Regions from separate parts of the Homo sapiens genome. Here region 2 is linked to region 1. The links come from fine-mapping of genetic effects on gene expression. A gene starts in region 1. The other region holds a variant in brackets. All regions are shown on one strand. Distances are from middle to middle. Region 1 holds the start of VTI1B (vesicle transport through interaction with t-SNAREs 1B). Region 2 overlaps RDH12 (retinol dehydrogenase 12).

The links. PIP is the estimated chance that this variant, and not a neighbour inherited with it, causes the effect.
Region 2: its variant is fine-mapped to the expression of VTI1B in transverse colon (GTEx, PIP 0.97).

The regions. Positions count from the first base shown.
Region 1 is chr14:67,668,985-67,678,343 of GRCh38, reverse strand. VTI1B (vesicle transport through interaction with t-SNAREs 1B) reads left to right here and starts at 3,712. Exons shown (of 6, transcript NM_006370.3): 1 at 3,712-3,969. The coding sequence starts at 3,855. It overlaps RDH11 (retinol dehydrogenase 11), which reads left to right. Exons shown (of 7, transcript NM_016026.4): 7 at 1-1,544. The coding sequence ends at 23. It also overlaps a transcript of GPHN not described here. RefSeq lists silencers at 3,388-3,827, 3,928-4,037.
Region 2 is chr14:67,717,720-67,727,050 of GRCh38, reverse strand. It overlaps RDH12 (retinol dehydrogenase 12), which reads right to left. Exons shown (of 9, transcript NM_152443.3): 2 at 6,149-6,203; 3 at 4,341-4,627; 4 at 2,460-2,578; 5 at 1,797-1,952; 6 at 896-1,000; 7 at 1-70. The coding sequence starts at 4,408. It also overlaps a transcript of GPHN not described here. Among named protein-coding and RNA genes, the nearest start is that of RDH12, 20 kb to the right of the region's middle. The variant C/A (reference allele first, on the strand shown) is at 4,032.

The sequences.
Region 1 (9,359 bases):
TGCTGGGCCTCCCAATAGACTAACAGGCAGTGCCAGTTGGACCCAAGAGAAGACTGCAGCAGACTACACAGTACTTCTTGTCAAAATGATTCTCCTTCAAGGTTTTCAAAACCTTTAGCACAAAGAGAGCAAAACCTTCCAGCCTTGCCTGCTTGGTGTCCAGTTAAAACTCAGTGTACTGCCAGATTCGTCTAAATGTCTGTCATGTCCAGATTTACTTTGCTTCTGTTACTGCCAGAGTTACTAGAGATATCATAATAGGATAAGAAGACCCTCATATGACCTGCACAGCTCATTTTCCTTCTGAAAGAAACTACTACCTAGGAGAATCTAAGCTATAGCAGGGATGATTTATGCAAATTTGAACTAGCTTCTTTGTTCACAATTCAGTTCCTCCCAACCAACCAGTCTTCACTTCAAGAGGGCCACACTGCAACCTCAGCTTAACATGAATAACAAAGACTGGCTCAGGAGCAGGGCTTGCCCAGGCATGGTGGATCACCGGAGGTCAGTAGTTCAAGACCAGCCTGGCCAACATGGTGAAACCCCACCTCTACTAAAAATTGTGTATATCTTTGTGTGTCTTCCTGTTTATGTGTGCCAAGGGAGTATTTTCACAAAGTTCAAAACAGCCACAATAATCAGAGATGGAGCAAACCAGTGCCATCCAGTCTTTATGCAAATGAAATGCTGCAAAGGGAAGCAGATTCTGTATATGTTGGTAACTACCCACCAAGAGCACATGGGTAGCAGGGAAGAAGTAAAAAAAGAGAAGGAGAATACTGGAAGATAATGCACAAAATGAAGGGACTAGTTAAGGATTAACTAGCCCTTTAAGGATTAACTAGTTAAGGATTAATAGCAAAAGATATTAAATATGCTAACATAGCTATGGAGGAATTGAGGGCAAGCACCCAGGACTGATGAGGTCTTAACAAAAACCAGTGTGGCAAAAAAAAAAAAAAAAAAAAAAAAAAAAATCCTAAAAACAAACAAACAAAAAAAACAATTCTTCATTCAGAAAAATTATCTTAGGGACTGATATTGGTAATTATGGTCAATTTAATAATATTTTGGGGCATTTCCTTACATTGTCTTGACAAGATTAAAATGTCTGTGCCAAAATTTTGTATTTTATTTGGAGACTTCTTATCAAAAGTAATGCTGCCAAAGGAAGTCTAAGGAATTAGTAGTGTTCCCATCACTTGTTTGGAGTGTGCTATTCTAAAAGATTTTGATTTCCTGGAATGACAATTATATTTTAACTTTGGTGGGGGAAAGAGTTATAGGACCACAGTCTTCACTTCTGATACTTGTAAATTAATCTTTTATTGCACTTGTTTTGACCATTAAGCTATATGTTTAGAAATGGTCATTTTACGGAAAAATTAGAAAAATTCTGATAATAGTGCAGAATAAATGAATTAATGTTTTACTTAATTTATATTGAACTGTCAATGACAAATAAAAATTCTTTTTGATTATTTTTTGTTTTCATTTACCAGAATAAAAACTAAGAATTAAAAGTTTGATTACAGTCAAAAGAAGAAAACACTGTTCATTATTATGGTTGTGCAATGATTTCTCATTCTAAAGAATAATTTGTTCCAGAGTCTAGCTACAGTGTAATCTCAATCCACATGCTATTAATTTAGGTTGTGTGATAATCTAATTGTTCATTCACCATTTCCTACTTAACCTTTTTTGACACTCTTCACAGACACTTTTTCCACATTTCTTGATCATCCCGGGCCATTTTTTTTTCCTTTCTTTTTAATTAGAGACAGCGTCTTGCTTTGTTGCCCAGGCTGGCCTCAAACTCTGGGCTCAAGCGATCCTCCCACCTTGGCCTCCCAAAGTGCTGGGGTACAGGTGTGAGCCGCAGCACCCGGCCCCAGGCTATTGATCCTTTTTTTGCACCTGCCCCTTATTTCTGTACTGTGACAAGTCCCAGCATTGTGCTGTGGGACTTACACAGTATACTGACTATCCTCAGACTTGGTCATGTCTATGCTCAGTGCATATTAAGAGCTTAACCAAAGTGTGTTGAATCAACAGCCAATGAACTTGATCTAATAAAAATGAGGGCCCAGGAGATACAAATTAGCAAAGCATTTTCTCCTGAGCAGTCATACATCTTTTAATATTTGTAGGCAGTTTAAAATTGAACTCCCAAGCAAACATTTGAGAACAGACACCTTGAGCAAACCGTGAAATCGGTGAAAATAATAATTTATTTTAATTTTTTGAGATAGGGTCTTCTCTGTCACCCAGGCTGGAGTGTGGTGGCACGATCTCAGCTCACTGCAACCACTGCCTCCCGGGTTCAGGCGATTCTCCTGCCTCAGCCTCCCGAGTAGCTGGGGTTACAGGCGCCCACCACCACGCTTGGCTAATTTTTGTGTTTTTAGCAGAGACGGGGGTTTCACCATGTTGGCCAGGCTGGTCTTGAACTCTTGACCTGAAGTGATCCGCCCGCCTCGGCCTCCCAAAGTGCTGGGATGACGCGTGAGCCACCATGCCCGACGTGAAGACAGGAATTTATACCCATGGAGTGCAAGAAGGGACCTTGTAATTTTTAACACGTGACACTTAGTGGCAGATGAGACCTAATGAAGCCAGGCCCACCTTCCACACCAGATTATAAATTCCCCTGGAGCAGAGATTAAATGTTTTATTCACCAACATGCCCAGATCCCTCGCAATGCCTACGCTTGACAAACACCTGTTGTCAACAAGTGCACGAGGCAGCCTAGGAGGAGAATTAGTCTCCACGAGGAGAATTACTCGGGCCTAGCAGCTAGAGTATTTCGAGGTCATCCTAACTGGGTTCCACTTTTGAATTTTTGGTTTTTGGGTTTTTTGTTTTTTTGGAGACAAGATCTCGCTCCACTTGGGAGCAAGGTCTCCCAAAGCTGGAGTGCAGTGGTGGGACCTCAGCCTCCGGGGGTAGCTGGGGCCAAAAGTGCGCGCCACCATGCCCGGTTCTTATTTTGGGTTTCTGGTAGAGCTCTCGCTATTGTGCCCAGGCTGGTCTCGAACTACTGGGTTCAAGCAATCCTCCCACCTCGGCCTCCCAAAGTACTGGGATTACAGGCGCGAGCCACTCGCCCGGCCGGGTTCCACTTCTGAAAGCTTGGGGAGCCGCTGGGCCTTCCAAGAAAAGTGCTCCACCTCCCGACGGCAGGCAGAGCCCCTGGCCCGGCTATCTTTCCAGGGCCGAAAGCTAACAGTCAAGACGCGAAACGAGGAATTCGGGTCAGGGTGGCAAAGCAAAGCGCGATGACAGTGAGGACGACGTCTAGACGCAAACATACATCAAATCGGGCCGAAGCCCGCTGTCGCCGCGCGGGCTGAACCTGGCACCCGGAGCAACGCGCGACCCCGGGACGAGACGCTCTCGTCCGAGCCAAACTACATCCCCCGGCGTGCACTGCAGCGCCCGCCCCTCGCCGGCCGGCGGGGCCCGGGAGGAAGGCGGCCGCGCTGCCAGTCCCGCAGGTCCCCTAGGCCCCTTTCGCTGCGGCCTTTCCCCAACCCGGACCCGGCACTTCTCGGGTTCCGCGACTGCCGATCGCCCCGGCGCGGCACCGCTCCCTCAGGAGTCGCCTAGGCCGCGCAGTCTCCCGACTTCTCGTCAGGCTTTCGCGCCGGCGCTCCAGCAATCACTGGCTGGAGAAGGTGGGCGTTCCGGCTCGAGAGGACCCTGCCGCGGCTCCGGAAGAGCCTCGTCCTGGGCGGCGGTGGTGCGGCGGTCGCCGTTATGGCCACTGGGCTGGGCGGCTGACCGCCGGGCTAGGAAAGGGCCCAGGGCCCCGAATCTCGGTGGCCGCTGCTCCAGCGCGGCCTGCGCCATGGCCTCCTCCGCCGCCTCCTCGGAGCATTTCGAGAAGCTGCACGAGATCTTCCGCGGCCTCCATGAAGACCTACAAGGGGTGCCCGAGCGGCTGCTGGGGACGGCGGGGACCGGTGAGGCGGGGGTGGGCCACGCCGTGGGGAGCGCAGCCCTGCGCGCTTTGGAAGGAAGATTCTCCCACCTTCCTCCCAGACCCGGGCCCGCGTCTCCTCCCTCCGCGTCCTCAGACACGCCCCCTAGGGCTGGCTTGTCCCAGCCCCAGGTCTCCCTGCTGCCACTGAGAGTAAATTGGACCTCGGGATTCAGTTCCCTGGGATCCTTCTATGGCCTTCCACATTTTCTCATCTTTTTTCACTGTGGCAAATAGAGCAGAGGGGCTTTTGCATCTGCGGTCCTGTAATGTAGAGTGGGTTTCTTTCATAGCTGTTTTTGTTTGTTTTATGCATTTAAAAGCACTAGTCTCAAGACAGGTCTAGTTTTCACCAGACTGACAGAGGATCCGTAGCACAGAAAAAGGGTTAAAAACCCAAAGGAGTCATAATTTGGGGGTGTTGGTAAATACCAGTTATTGGAGGGTAGAGAGCTGGCCTTTAAAACCTGATTGTGGCATTTAGATGTGGTCTTGTTTTGAACGTTTTTACAGCTGAGACTGTTTACTACCCCTTAATTTCATGATTCAGGTTGCTACAAGTTCTGTCTGGAGGAGCTAGAGTTTTCCGGCCCTAAATCCATAGGAAAAGCTGCTATAGTTCTTGGCCTCCGGATATATAGAATTTGATGGCAAGGACAAAACTTTGTTTTATTGCTTTTATTTAAGAGTCAGAGCTTGGGTGTTTGCTCAACGAATTACTCAAGGTCATAGGAATTGAATGACTGGTGAGAATGAAATTCATGTATTTAATATATATTTATTGTGAGGCTGCTGTGTGCTAGGTGCTGGTGAATTGTGAGGCACCGTTCTAGGTGCTGGTGAATATTGCAAATTACAGTGAAAAAGATACGAACATCCCCATTCTAGTGGGTAGGTGATAAACAATATATAACTATTAAGAGGCAGTGTTAAAGAATACAGGAAAGTAAATCAGAGTAAAAGAATAGGGGATGGGACTTCAGTTTTATTTTATTATTTATCATTTTTTTTTTTGAGACAGGGTCTCACTCTGTCACCCAGGCTGGAGTGCAGTGGCACGATCTCGGCTCACTGCAACCTCCACTTCCCAGATTGAAGCAATTCTCCTGCCTCAGCCTCTGGAGTAATAGGGATTACAGTTGCGCCACCACCCCTAGCTAATTATTTTTGTATTTTTAGTAGAGACAGGGTTTTGCCATGTTGGCCAGGCTGATCTCTAACTCCTGACCTCAAGTGATCCGCCTTCTTTGGGACTTCAGTTTTAAATAGGGCGGTTGTGAAAGTCCTCTCTGAGGAGATGGCGTTTGAACAGAGACTTAAATGAAGTGAGGGAGTAAACCAGAAATCAGGGAGAAGTGAGTGTCAGAAGGAGGGAATAGCACTGCAAATGCCTTTAAGCAGAAATGAGCTTGGTGTGTTCAGCGAAGAGCAGGAAGTTCCATGTGTTTGGGATGGAGTGAGCAAAGGAGAGCGATAAGCAGGGCCAGATCATGTAGGGCCTTGTGGACCATGGTGAAAGACTTGTGCCTTTTTCTAAATATGATGGGATGCAGTTAAAAGATACTGTGCAGAAGCATTGTGGGATCTGATTTATGTGATTGAAAAGTAGACTGCAGGCAGGGTACGGTGGCTCACACCTGTAATTCCAGCACTTGGGGAAGCCGAGGCGGGCGGATCACTTGAGGTCAGGAGTTCAAGACCAGCCTGGCCAATATGGTGAAACCCCATCTCTACTAAAAATACAAAAATTAGCCGGGCATGGTGTCAGTTGCCTGTAGTCCCAGCTACTCAGGAGGCTGAGGCAGAATTGCTTGAACCCAGGAGGCGGAGGTTGCAGTGAGCCGAGATCATGCCACTGAACTCCAGCCTGGGCAACAGATCAAGACTCTGTATCAAAAAAAAAAAAAAAAGAAAAGAAAAGAAAAAAAAGTAGACTGCAGGCCAGGCATGGTGGCTCACACCTGTAATCCCAGCACTTGGGGAAGCTGAGGCAGGAGTATTGCTGTGTTGAACGATTTTGAGACCAGCCTGGGCAACATGGTGAAACCTCATCTCTACAAAAAATAAAAAAATTAGCCAGGCATGGTGGTGCATGCCTGTAGTCCCAGCTCCTGGGGAGGCTGAGGTGGGAGGATCACTTGGGCCCTGGAGCTGGAGGTTGCAGTGAGCCAAGATCGCACCACTGCACTCTAGCCTGGACCACAGAGCAAGACTCTCCCAAAAAAAAAAAAAAATGTAGACTGCATTTTCAACCTGGCACTGAATTAATTTTTGCAATGCCCATTTCTATAAGTCTAAATAATGCAAAAGAACATTGCTTTGAAAAATAGAAAATTGAATTCATTATTACTATGGTTTGAATGTCCCCCTCTAAAACTTATGTTGACATTTATTTGCTATTTTAATCGCATTAAGAGGTGGGACCCATAAGAAATGATTAGACCATGAGGGCTCCATCCTCAGAGATTAGATTGTTATCCTGAGAGTGGCTTGGTTGTTGAGAGAGTGGGTTAGTTCAGCCCTCTCTTGCTTGCCTGCTCTCTTGATCTGTTGCCCTTCCATCTTCTGCCATGGGGTGACCCATGGGTAGCAAGAAGGCCCTTGAAAGAATCAGCCCTCTCAGCCTTGGGCTTCCCAGCCTCCAGAACTCTGAGAAATACATTTATTTTCTTTATAAATTACCCAGACTCAGCTATTCTGTTATAGCAACATAAAGCTAAGATAGTTACATTCACCTTTGTTGTCTACCCAGCCTTTTTCTCCATCCTGCAAAGAGGACAATCAGAAATATGTGAATTTCTTTTCTTTTTTCTTTCTTTTTTTTGTTTTTTTGAGATAGAGTCTTGCTCTGTCGCCCAGGCTGGAGTGCAGTGGTACAATCTCAGCTCACTGCAACCTCCACCTCCTGGGTTCAAGTGATTCTCATGCCTCAGCCTTCCGAGTAGCTGGGATTACAGGCGCATGCTACCACACCTAGCCAATTTTTGTATTTTTAGTAGACACGGGGTTTCACCATGTTGGCCAGGCTGGTCTCAAACTCCTGACCTCAAGTGATCTGCCCGCCACGGCCTCCCAAAGTGCTAGGATTACAGGTGTGAGCCACTGCGCCCAACCACAAAATACTCTAAGTTGCTGGTAACAGACATAGTTGTTTAATGGATAAGTAAAGAAAATATATACATATCCCTAGAATTATAATAAGTCCAACAACTTTACCTCTTATTCACTACCTCATTCACACTGCTCAATAAATGTTTGTTGAATAAATTGAATTTATCTAAGCAAACACATGGTGCCTCATCTCTGAATCCTCTTTTTCTAGTTCAGAGACCACATCATAAAGTTTTCAGAGCTTTAATGCCCATCATGAATTATTAGGCACAGCATAATGTACATAATACAGTCCTTGCATGTAGCTTATGCTCTGTAATTGAATTCAGTCATTTTTCAATAAACACTGAGAATTATTATGTATCAGCCACTGTCTAGGCTCTGAGGACTTCCAGAGTTCTTACCTTAAAAAGAAACAAACGGCCGGGCACGGTGGCTCATGCTGGTAGTCCCATCACTTTGGGAGGCCTAGGCGGGCGGATCACAAGGTCACGGATGGAGACCATCCTGGTCAACATGGTGAAACCCCATCTCTACTCAAAATACAAAAATTAGCTGGGTGTGGTGGCATGTGCCTGTAGTCCCAGCTACTCAGGAGGCTGAGGCAGGAGAATCGATTAAACCCAGGGGGCAGAGATTGCAGGCGACAGAGCGAGACTCTATCTCAGAAAAAAAAAAAGGTAACAAACCTTACAACCAAGTGTGTGATTAATCCTAAAATAAAGTTCTCTGAGACCATAAAAAGGGCTGGACTTGAGCATGGGGAAGAGGGGGAAGCTTCAAAAAACTTCAAACTGAATATAAGGGATTGAATGGGAGTTTGCTAGATGGGAAATGCGAAGAGGCAACACAGGAGTAAAACATGGAATACTCCCAACTCTGGAGCTTAGAATGTATGTGGGAAAGTAGTAGTAGAGGGGCAGGTGAAACAGCCAGATTGTGAGGGGATCTCAGTGTCACATTGAGACATTTGGACTTGATATGGAAAGTCAGTAAAGGACGTAAAGCAGTTGATTGATGTGGATTTTCTTTTAGAAGGAGGGCATTAATGGCTAGACAGGACAAGAGAGAGCACAAGAATCTGGGTACAGGGGACTGTGTTAAGAGCCTTTTGGGCAGTCACCTTGCTAACGGGAATTTGTTTGACACAGGTTCTCACTCCTGTCTCCCGTCATCCAGGCTGGAGTGCAGTGGCACCATCACTGCTCACTGCAGCCTTGGCTTCCCGGGCTCAGGTGATCCTCCCACCTCAGCCTCCCGAGTAGCTGGGACCACAGGTGCATGGCACCAGGCCTGGCTAATTTTTTGTATTTTTAGTAAGGGTCTCCCATGTTATCCAGGCTGTTCTCGAATTCCTGGGCTTAAGTGATCCACCCACCTCAGCCTCTTAAAGTGCTGGGGTTACAGGGGTGAGCTACAGTTCCCGGCCCAAGAGTTGGTTTTGAGGCAGAAATTAACCAGCCTCAATGGATATGAGGAGTGAGGGAGAAAGGTTCCAGGGTGTCTGCATTTTTTCACTTGGTCAACTGGGTGAATGATGAACTTAAGTAAGAAACATAAGAGGAGAAGCAGAGTTTGGGTTGTGGATGAGAATATCAAAGGTACCTGTAGAACAGAGATCATGACATAATATAGCCTTACAAAATGTTTCTTCTTCTGCCATTAAAAATAACATACGGGGGCCAGGTGTGGTGGCTCGTGCCTGTAATCCCAACATTTTGGGAGGCTGAGGCAGGAGGATTGCATGAGGCCAAGAGTTGGAGACCAGCCTTGGCAACATGGTGAGACCTATCTCTACAAAAAAAAAAAAGCTGAGTAGTGTGGTGCTGCTCACTTGTAATCCCAGCTGCTCAGGAGGCTGAGGCAGGAGGATCACTTGAGTCTAGCAGTTTGAAGTTTTAGTGAGCTGTCATCACATCATTGCACTCCAACCTGGGTGACAGAGCAAGACTCCGTCTCAAAAAAAAAAAAAAAAATTATGAAGAAGTATGTGAATTGAGAGGCCATATAGTATAATATTTAACAGCAAGAATTCAAGAGCCAGATTGCCTGAGTTTAAATTCACCTTCTAGTAGCAGTGTGACCTTGGACAGGTTACTTTAACCCAATTAGTTTTTCCTGCCAAATGGGGATAAATCATAGTATCTACTTCACAGGGTTTTTGTGAGGAGTAAATGAGTTAATATATGTAAAGTCCTTAGAATACTGCCTGATAATAGAGCTACTAGCCATTTTATTTAAATGAAAATTAAGAATACCAGC
Region 2 (9,331 bases), 49 kb before region 1:
ACATTAACCACCCGTGCAGGGGCAGACACCTTTAGCCGCTCCAGGAGCAGGTAGGTGAGGAGGAAGTGGCCTGTGAGGAGAGCCAGCAGGGAAGATTGAAAGTGGAATGACAGCCCAGGCTCAGCATGTGGGAGCCAAGAGGACTTCAGTGTTAGCTCACTATCTTCTGGGTGTGAACCAATTTTGATGCCATGAGTAACTCTAATGGTCAGTTTGGTCTGAGTTTGTGGATTCCTCAAAGCAAGAGCCAGAGCTAGACTACAAGTAAGGCAATCATACTTAATTATATTACTTTGTACCTCTGCCCTTGACCCACCTGCTGGCTTCCAACTCCCACTCTGGCCATGATCGCATAACTAGGGACCCAGGTACACTTGTGTATAGGCAGAAGGATAGAACAGTCAGGGAAGATAACATTTGCTTAGGATCAGAAAACATGCTCCATGCTCTCCTCCCTAAAGTCTTTGCCTTGAACGCTGAACCCCACCCTGCCTCGTACTCAAGTTCTCAAGGATTGCCTACCTCCGTGGACCAACCCATGGCTTGGTTGGCCATCATGTAGATGTGACCCCTCCAGCCAAGCCCAGATGCCTGCATAACCCCAGGTCTGGCCCTGCCTGGCAAGCCTTGTACTGCCACTGCCCCATCCAAGAATGACATTCTTCTCCCTGGTATTTCCTGAAATTTGGGGCTTCTTAATGGTATGGGTAGGAAGATCTCACTTTTTTAGACTGATCAGGAGAGGTACAGTGAACAACAAGCCAATGGGTCTAGTCTATTGGAATTCCTAGGCTCTATGAAGGCCCCTGGACATTCTCCACATTTACACAGTGTCATCTTCCTAAAGAAAAGATAGTGGGTGTACCTCATTTTTTAGTCACCCAAAGATACTTACCCAGGTGGTTGACTCCCAGGTGGGTTTCAAAGCCATCAGCTGTCTTGGAATATGGACACATCATTACTCCCGCATTGTTGATCAGAATATGGAGCTGCTTTTCCTCTATAGGGCACAACCAAAGAGATCCTATGGTTAGCAAGGAGTCCCCTAGCTGCCTGTAACAGACCTGCATAATTGCCCTTTCCCTTTGTTCATTAGTTGTCTTTGTTGGGGTAACATTTTGATAGGAGTCACTTGCTCTGCCCCTTCCTTTTAAAACAAGGTATTGCCTCAGCACTCAATAACTATCCTTCATTTGGACCTATCTCAGTGACATCCAATAAGCATTGTCACTGGGTTTCTAATGAGTAATTTTAGTTACTCATATCTTCCTGGACATTGTTCATTCATTTATTCAGCAAATGTGTACTAACTACCGACTCTGAGCCAGGTGCACTCTGCTGGGCACTAGGAATCCAGTGGTAACACAAGCCAGACATGGTCCCAGGATGTCCCTCATGGATTTCATAGTCCGTGGTAGAAGCTGGTCATTTTCCAAGATCCAGAAGAACTTGCCAGCAGCACAACTTCATCTCATGCCTATGGCCACACAAGGTTGATTCTCAGGATGAAAGAAGAGAGTGGCATTGTGGCCACACCTTGATGCCAAGGTGCAAGCCCAGACAGGGAGCTAACACCTCCGACATTCCCATTGCTGAGGCGAAAAGATGATAAGGATCCTGCCCAGTCTATCTACCCACCATCCTCTTGCCAATTCCCTGTCCTGCTGGTTCATGTGGCAGAACCTGTCTAGTGGGGTGGATGATGGTTCTGATGTAAGGGCCATAGATGGTCTAGGGTGGAGCAGCCACTCCCATACCCAATTTCCTGCTTTTCTACCTACCCATCAGGACCTCACCTGCCAGAAAGCCCTCAGCAAAGGCTCGGATAGATTTGGTGTCGGATAGGTCCAATTTCCGCACCAGCACCTGGGAGTTCTTTGTATCCACTCGGATTTCACTGGCAGCAGACTCCCCCTTCAGTACATCTCTGCAGGCAATATAGACTCGGGCTCCTGGGTCCAAGACAAAAAAAGAGCAGTATGTTCATATCCTAGGCTATAAAGGAGGTATAGTAAGTGAGCTTGGGACTGGGGGACAGAGCATTCATTCTCCCAGCCATCCTTCAACGGTAGAGTGAACATATTGCCACTTCGGGCTTTTCACAGTAGTACTGTTCAGTCTTCTTGCTGTCAGTTTAATCCCAGGCTGGGAACCTGGTTCCCAGGTTTTACATTCTGATATTTAATGTCACTTAGTATCTCCTTTTAGAATAACTGACTTGGCTATACACAGACATCGTTTTCCTTATTTTATTTAATAGAGAGGGAATAGGAAAGAAGCAGTTTATTGGAGGCCACAGTGTAAGTTGGTGTCACAGTTGGACTTGAATCCCAGGTTCCTTGAATTTCTAGTCAGAGCCCCCAAGCCTAGGAGGAAACACAAAGCAATATGGACAGAGGCCCCAGTGGGAAGAAGGGTGGGAGGCATGGCCCTTTGGAGACTAAAGGGGAAACACTTACCTCGGCTAGCGAGCTCTCTGGCCGTCTCCTTGCCAATGCCCGTGTTGGCGCCAGTGATCACCACTACCTTGCCAGGAAGCTGCACATTTGTTCTACACACTCCACCAGCAAAGAACTTCCTATCGGCAAGGGAAACAAGAGCATCACGTACCATCCTTCACGAGCTCACACTAAGATACGTTAAAAAAAAAAAAAAAAACTCTATCCAGCCTCAAAGAAGGGTATCTTTAAGTTGCAGTCAGGAGACTCATAAAAGCTAACCTTCATAGGACAACATTTTTCCATGGGGCAAGGTAGTCGCCTGTTTATCGGTGCAGGTGGGAAGATCACTTGCCCAGAAGCCACAAATAATCATATTAGCAAACAGAGTAAATGCTGGAGTCAGGGCCAATGGAGACTTTCCTTGTTAGATAATAAATACATCTAGCTCTTATCTCTAGAGGTTCCAGAGGAAAGCTTTCCCCTCTAACCTACATTCAAAACATATGCATGATAAACATTAGCGGAGTCAATATTCAGTAACCATCATCATGAGTAACTGATGAACAGCACTCTGTGGGGGGTGGCACACACAGGTACTGCTCTTAGCACTCTGGGGGATGGCATACACAGGTACTGATCTTAGGCTGCCTCTCCAGTTTTAGGGAGTGGGTCATTTCCGAGGCTTTCAGCCATTGTATTAGAGATTTCATTCTGGCCGATGGCAAACAGAGAGAAAACCTCCTTTGTTCAGACCTCTGTGCAGAGAGCACTCTTTTACATGAAGTTGACTTCACAGGTCCTAAAACAGAATACGGAGGGGCAGAACTAACATTTCCTGCACATCATCTGACTGCCAATTACTAGTCTAGGCACTTTCCATATGTAATTTATTTTAATCCTCTCAACTTCTCCAGTATTATTTCCACATTACAGTAGAGAAAACTGAGGCTCAGGGAGGTTCATGTCACATAGTGGTGGCAGAAGTGGGACTTGAACCCAGATCTCTATGGAGAACCTAGAATAACACTGTCCTTGGTAGGTCCATTTAACCTCCTTTATCATAAGAAATTTTTTAGGCTGAGCCCAGTGGCTCATGCCTGTAATCCCAACATCTTGGGAGGCCAACGTGGGATGGTCGCTTAAGCCCAGGAGTTTGAGACCAGCCTGGGCAACATAGTGAGACCCCCATCTCCACAAAAAATTTAAAAAGTAGCTGGGTGTAGTGGCACCTGCCTATATTCCCAACTACTTGGGAGGCTGAGGCAGGAGGGTTGCTTGAGCCCAAGAGTTCAAGGCTGCAGTGACCTATGACTACACCAATGCACTCCACCCTGGGGTGACAGAGCAAAAATTAAAAAAGAGAAATTTAAAAATTCTCCACTCAGAACACACTTTTATTTGACACCTCTAGAAATCCCACAGCAAAAAAGCCATCCCAAAACATTAATTGAGGGTAGTCTCAAAGGCAGAAGAGTTTGTTTCTTTCCCAAACTACCTGGTACTTAACAGCATGACAAGCCAGCAGGGCCACCCTGAATAGGGACAGAGTCTCCGAGTTCTTCAGAGACACCCAAAGGAATAAAATGAAAA[C/A]GCAAGGACTCCCACCTAAGGTGTTTGTTGAGCTACTTGACAGAGTCATCCATGCAGCCTTCCGCTGGCAGTAGAACTCTCCCCAGAGCTCAGGTGGGGCCAGAACTCAGCCCCACCTCTGCCCGGCCGCAGATGCTTCCTTCTGGTTTTCCACCATGGTATCCACAACACCCCCTTCCTTCCTGCTTTTCCTGCCCTGACTTTCTCCTCTGTCAGCCTCCTTCCCTTTCTCTTCTTTCAGCAGCTGAGAACCGGCTTCCAGTGCAGGTCTTTGTAAACGATTGTTTGAGTTGCTGAATTAAGACAAACCTGATGGATGGAGCTACCATATACAGGAACGAGAAGAAGGAGGTGAGCAGTCCCAAGGTGACCAGCATCGTTCCAACTTCTGTAGCTGCTGTTGCTTTTGCTGCTGCTCCAGCTTCAACCCCAGCTCTGGCTCAGGTTCCTGGTCTGGCTCCAGCTCTTGGCTGCTTCTGCTGCTTCTCTGCTCCTCTCCGTCCTGGGTGCTGAGCAGCAGCCTGACTCTGAGCAGAGCCCAGAATCCTATTTAAATCCAAGAGCTGTCAGAGCACAGCCTGCTGGGAGATGTAGTCCTGGTGGGGAGGGGATGGAGTCAAGGTTTGAAGCTTACTTAGGTTTACTGGCAAAGAGAATGTGGGGAAACTAAAGCAAGTACCCCCTAAACCCCCCATCCTCAATTGTTTCTCTTCTCTAGGAAATGTGTTCTCCCAACCACTGCCACCTCTACTGCAAGATGGAATATATAGAATATTTCTAACTTTAGCCACAAACCCCATGATGCTTAAAATATGAGTGGATTAAAATAGGATGGGAAGGAAACTCCCAGAAGAATGGAGAGAGACGTCAGAAGAGCAGTTAACCTTAGGGAGGAGGGGGCAGTGACTGGGGAGGGAGATGACTGGAACTCCTGGAGGGCTGAGAGTGCTCTGCTCTTTCATCTGGGTGCTAGTACATGGGTGTGCTCACTTTATGAAAATCTGCTGAGTCGTATGCTTTCGACTTGTGCACTTTTCTGCATTTTATATTTTACTTCAATGAAGTTAACACACGCACATGCATATTACAAGGAAAGGTATGGTGTTTAAGTGCATGGACTCTAGCGCTGAATCTATTTAAAAGCTCCACGGCCCTGGGCAAGTTACTAAACCTCTCTGTTAACTCAGTTTTCTCACTTGTACAATGGGTATGATTATATATATAATATATGGTTTTATATATATATGTGTTATACATATATATATATATATATATATATATCCCCACTTGTTCTAAGTGTTCAATTATTACATTGGTGGAAAACGAAACTGGCATATGCTAAACAGTATATAAGAGTCAGCTGTTATGGTTAGCTGTTCTGATTCGTATCTCCCTTGCTATCTCACTTGCTTTACTCAAGGCCATGGTGTAGAAAAGGGAGAGATGATGAACGTGGGTGATGTTTCAGTTGAATGCTATTGAAGATGAGGAGAAATACAAGAAAATGCTGGTAAAGAGCCCAAGGTAGGGGGATCCCTTGAGGCCAGAAGTTCAAGACTGAGCTTAGGCAACTTAGTGAGACCCTGTCTCTACAAAAAATTATCTGGGTGTGGTGGTGCGTGCCTGTAATCCTAGCTACTCGGGAGGCTGAGTAGGGAGGATCACTTGAGCTCAGAGGTCAAGGTTGAAGTGAGCTAGGATCGTGCCTCTGGATGTGTGTGAGATGGGAGAAGGGTAAGTGGGATTCATTGCCCTTCCTCGCTCTGTGTTCCTCTCTTGGACAGAAGAATAGACAAGGAGCTGGGACAGGACCCCAGGAATAATTTCCCAGTTCTGTCCCTTCCTGTGAAGCCAGAGGAGCCTCCAGGAACACCCATGCATGAAAGACTTCTGTGGCAGGCAGGTGTTCATGTCCTCATTCATCAGTTCATCCTCAACACACATTTACTGAGTGTTTCTCTGCACCAGGAATTGTGCAACATACTAGGAAGACACAGTTTCTGCCCCTGGGGAAACCCATGGACCTGACCAACAGAACAAGGAGTGATCAGATCATTCCCAGCAGACACTTCTTGACTCAAATCTAAGATCCTTGCATTTAAGAAGATGGTACTCACCTTAGCTTGAGCTTGTCCAGGAAGCAGAGAGTCCTTAAGAACAGCATACAGTCCTCTGGAGAGAAGATATTAGAAGGACCATAAGGCATCTAGAATTATGAAAATACACAAACACTTTGCTAAAATAAAATGTTAAATATTATAATCCAAAGGCCACCATCATATCATTGATAAGTTGTACCAAAATGCTAAACCATACTACTAAGTACAGGTAGGTGAATAGGCAGACAAATCAATAGAACAGAATGGAAAGGCAAGAAATAGACCCAAATACACATGGGCATTTAGATATGATGAAAATGCCATTTCAAATCAGTGGAAGGGACAGATGATTTAATTAACAAAGTATTGTGGCACCTAGGTATCCAGCTGGGAAAAAGCAAACTTGATCCTTCCAAAATTCGAATACCTCAAAGACGTAAGTATGAGAAATGAAACCACTGAAGTATTAAGAAGAACCACTGGACACATTTTTAGAGTGGTAAGACCTTTCTAGTAAGACAGGAAACTGAAAACTAAAACTTAAAAAATGAGCATGACAAAAACCATCATACACAAGGCAAGATAAATGAGAAACTGGGGGGAAATATTCATAACAGGCTTTGAAGACAAGAGACTAATTGATTTAGTAGATAAAGAACTCTTACAAATCAGTAAGAAAAGGAATAACAACCCAATTGAAATAGCAGTTTACAAAAAAGGAAATACAAGTGGCTCTTCACCCTCACTCATATGAGAGATGCAAATTAAAATTATACTGGGAGCCACTTTTCACTTATCAGATTGCCAAAGGTCAAAAAGATTGTAGTATGATCCACTGGCAAGCATGTGAAGAAATAATGCTGATGCATTGCTCGTGGGAGAGTCCATTGTTAAAGCCTCCATAGAGAGAAGTGTTGTAATGTCTAGTAAAGCTGTGCATGCACTCATTCACCTAAACATTCGACTTCCATGTATTTATAAGGTTACCATTATAGCATTGTATATTATAGCAGAAGTTTGGAAACCTCCTAAATGTCCATCAATAGTAAAGCCACATAATAGATAGTATACAGCTGTAAAAAAAGAATAAATAATTAAGAAACAGAATAAATAAAAAACTTAAGTAAATAAACATTAAATTTTGGTTGGGCACTGTGGCTTACATCTGTAATTCCTGCACTTTGGGAAACCGAGGCAGGAGGATCACGTGAGACCAGAAGTTCAAGACCAACCTGGGCAACATAGTGAGACCCCGTCTCTACAAAAAGGAAAACTAAAAATTAGCTGGCCTGGTGGCACACACCTGTGGTCCCAGCTACTTGGGAGGCTGAGGCAGGAGGATCACTTGAGCCCAGGAGGTTGAGGCTGCATTGAGCCATGATCATGCCACTACACTCCAGCCTGGGCAACAGAGCAAGACCCTGTCTCTAAAAAAAAGAAAAGAAAAAATAAATAAACTTTTCAGCAAAAAGACCCTGATAACCTGCAGGACACATTTCACAGGCTTCCAAATGAACTGCTTGGAAAAGGTCTTAAGACTGATGGCTTACATCCTGTCTCTGAGTAAAGAATCTTATCGTGAGGCACTCAAATTCTATTGCGAGTTCCTCAAACTATGTATTTATTAATTGTCAGGTTACTGATTAATACTGACATTGAAAGGGACATTGTTTTCTTTCTAAATCATAAAGCTCTGCTGATTTGTTTTTACTGATTGTCTTGTGCATAAAACATTTTAGCCTGTACGCTGTCATCCATAGGCAATGATTGTAACCTCTGTATTGTACCCTCCAATGGAAAAGGATAACTCCGATATGAGGAGTCCCCCTTCCTTCTCCTAAACAGTCTTATAAAAGCATTCCAACTTGTAACAGATGTTGGAACATGCCCAACTTTGTTGGTGTATCTTACTGGATAAATTCTCACATTTGGCTTCCAATAAACTTTTATCAATTTATCTCTGCCCCAATGGCCTTAATTTCTGTTGAAAACCGTATCATTTTGCAACAACTTACATGTTTATCTTTGTTAAATTAATCATTGCAGTATCACAAATAAAGCTATTTCTCAAACTGGTATCGAGACATTCTTAAACATGCTTTGGCACATAAGCAAAGCCATAATCATCACCCACTTCATCATTGTAATCAACATCAAAAAAGCCAGGGACCAATAGGATACCTGCTCTTTAGGGATTTTCAATCTGGGACAGATATAGGCATAAGTCACAGAGAGAAAGAGATGAAAACACCAGAGGAACCAGTGTAGGAATAGGCCTGAAGTTCAGTGATGACAGAGCACTCATCACTTGCAACACCTTTGAGAAGGATCCTCTTCTAGCCTCACCGTGAGTGAATCAATCACAGGTCAGGTTCCCGGATCAGCCATCCTCCCAGGGCTAACACTGAGGCAGGGATGTGTGGAGATCACATGCTATGAAGCAGAGCTGGGAAGCTGCTTGCTGATTTGACCTTTGGTCATAAATCATCTAGCAGCTCATACTGTACTGGTCTCCTGGTTATCCCTGTCCTGGATACCCTACTAAGAATGGAGCCTCTTACAAAATAGAGTGAGAGGGAAAACTGTAAACTTCTCTTTCTCTTCCTCCCTTCCTCCTTCTCCTCTTCCCTATTCTTCAAATCACATATTTTGGAAGCCAGATGAGACAGGTGGGAGATGACAGATTCCATCTTTCTACTGCAAGCCCTGCCCAACTTCCCTAAGGAGCCCGTACAGCACCACAGTTATTTCCTTTTCCAGCCATGAGGAACTTGCTGCCTCTTCCCATGCCCTGACCCCAAACAGCAAACCAAAATGGAAGCACATTTTTTTGTATTTGTTTTAACCAATAATAATGACTTGTTGTTCCTTTTTCTTGATTTTAAAAGCTAAAATAAACACACTGTCTTTCTCAAAGAAAAAGAATTTTTGCTGCTAGTATGTAACTTCCGTTGATTTTTCAAGGGATCAGCAACCCTTACTCTTAATTCACAGCAGGCACTATTGACATTTAAAAAAAAATAGAGACAGGGTCTCACTGTGTTGCCCATGCTGGTCGTGAATTCCTAGGCTCGTGTGATCCTTCCACCTTGGTCTCTCAAAGTGCTGGGATTATAGGTGTGAGCCACCACGCCCAGCCTATTGACATTTTGAGCCTTATAATTCTTTCCTGTGAGTGGCTGTTCCGAGTAAAGGAGGATT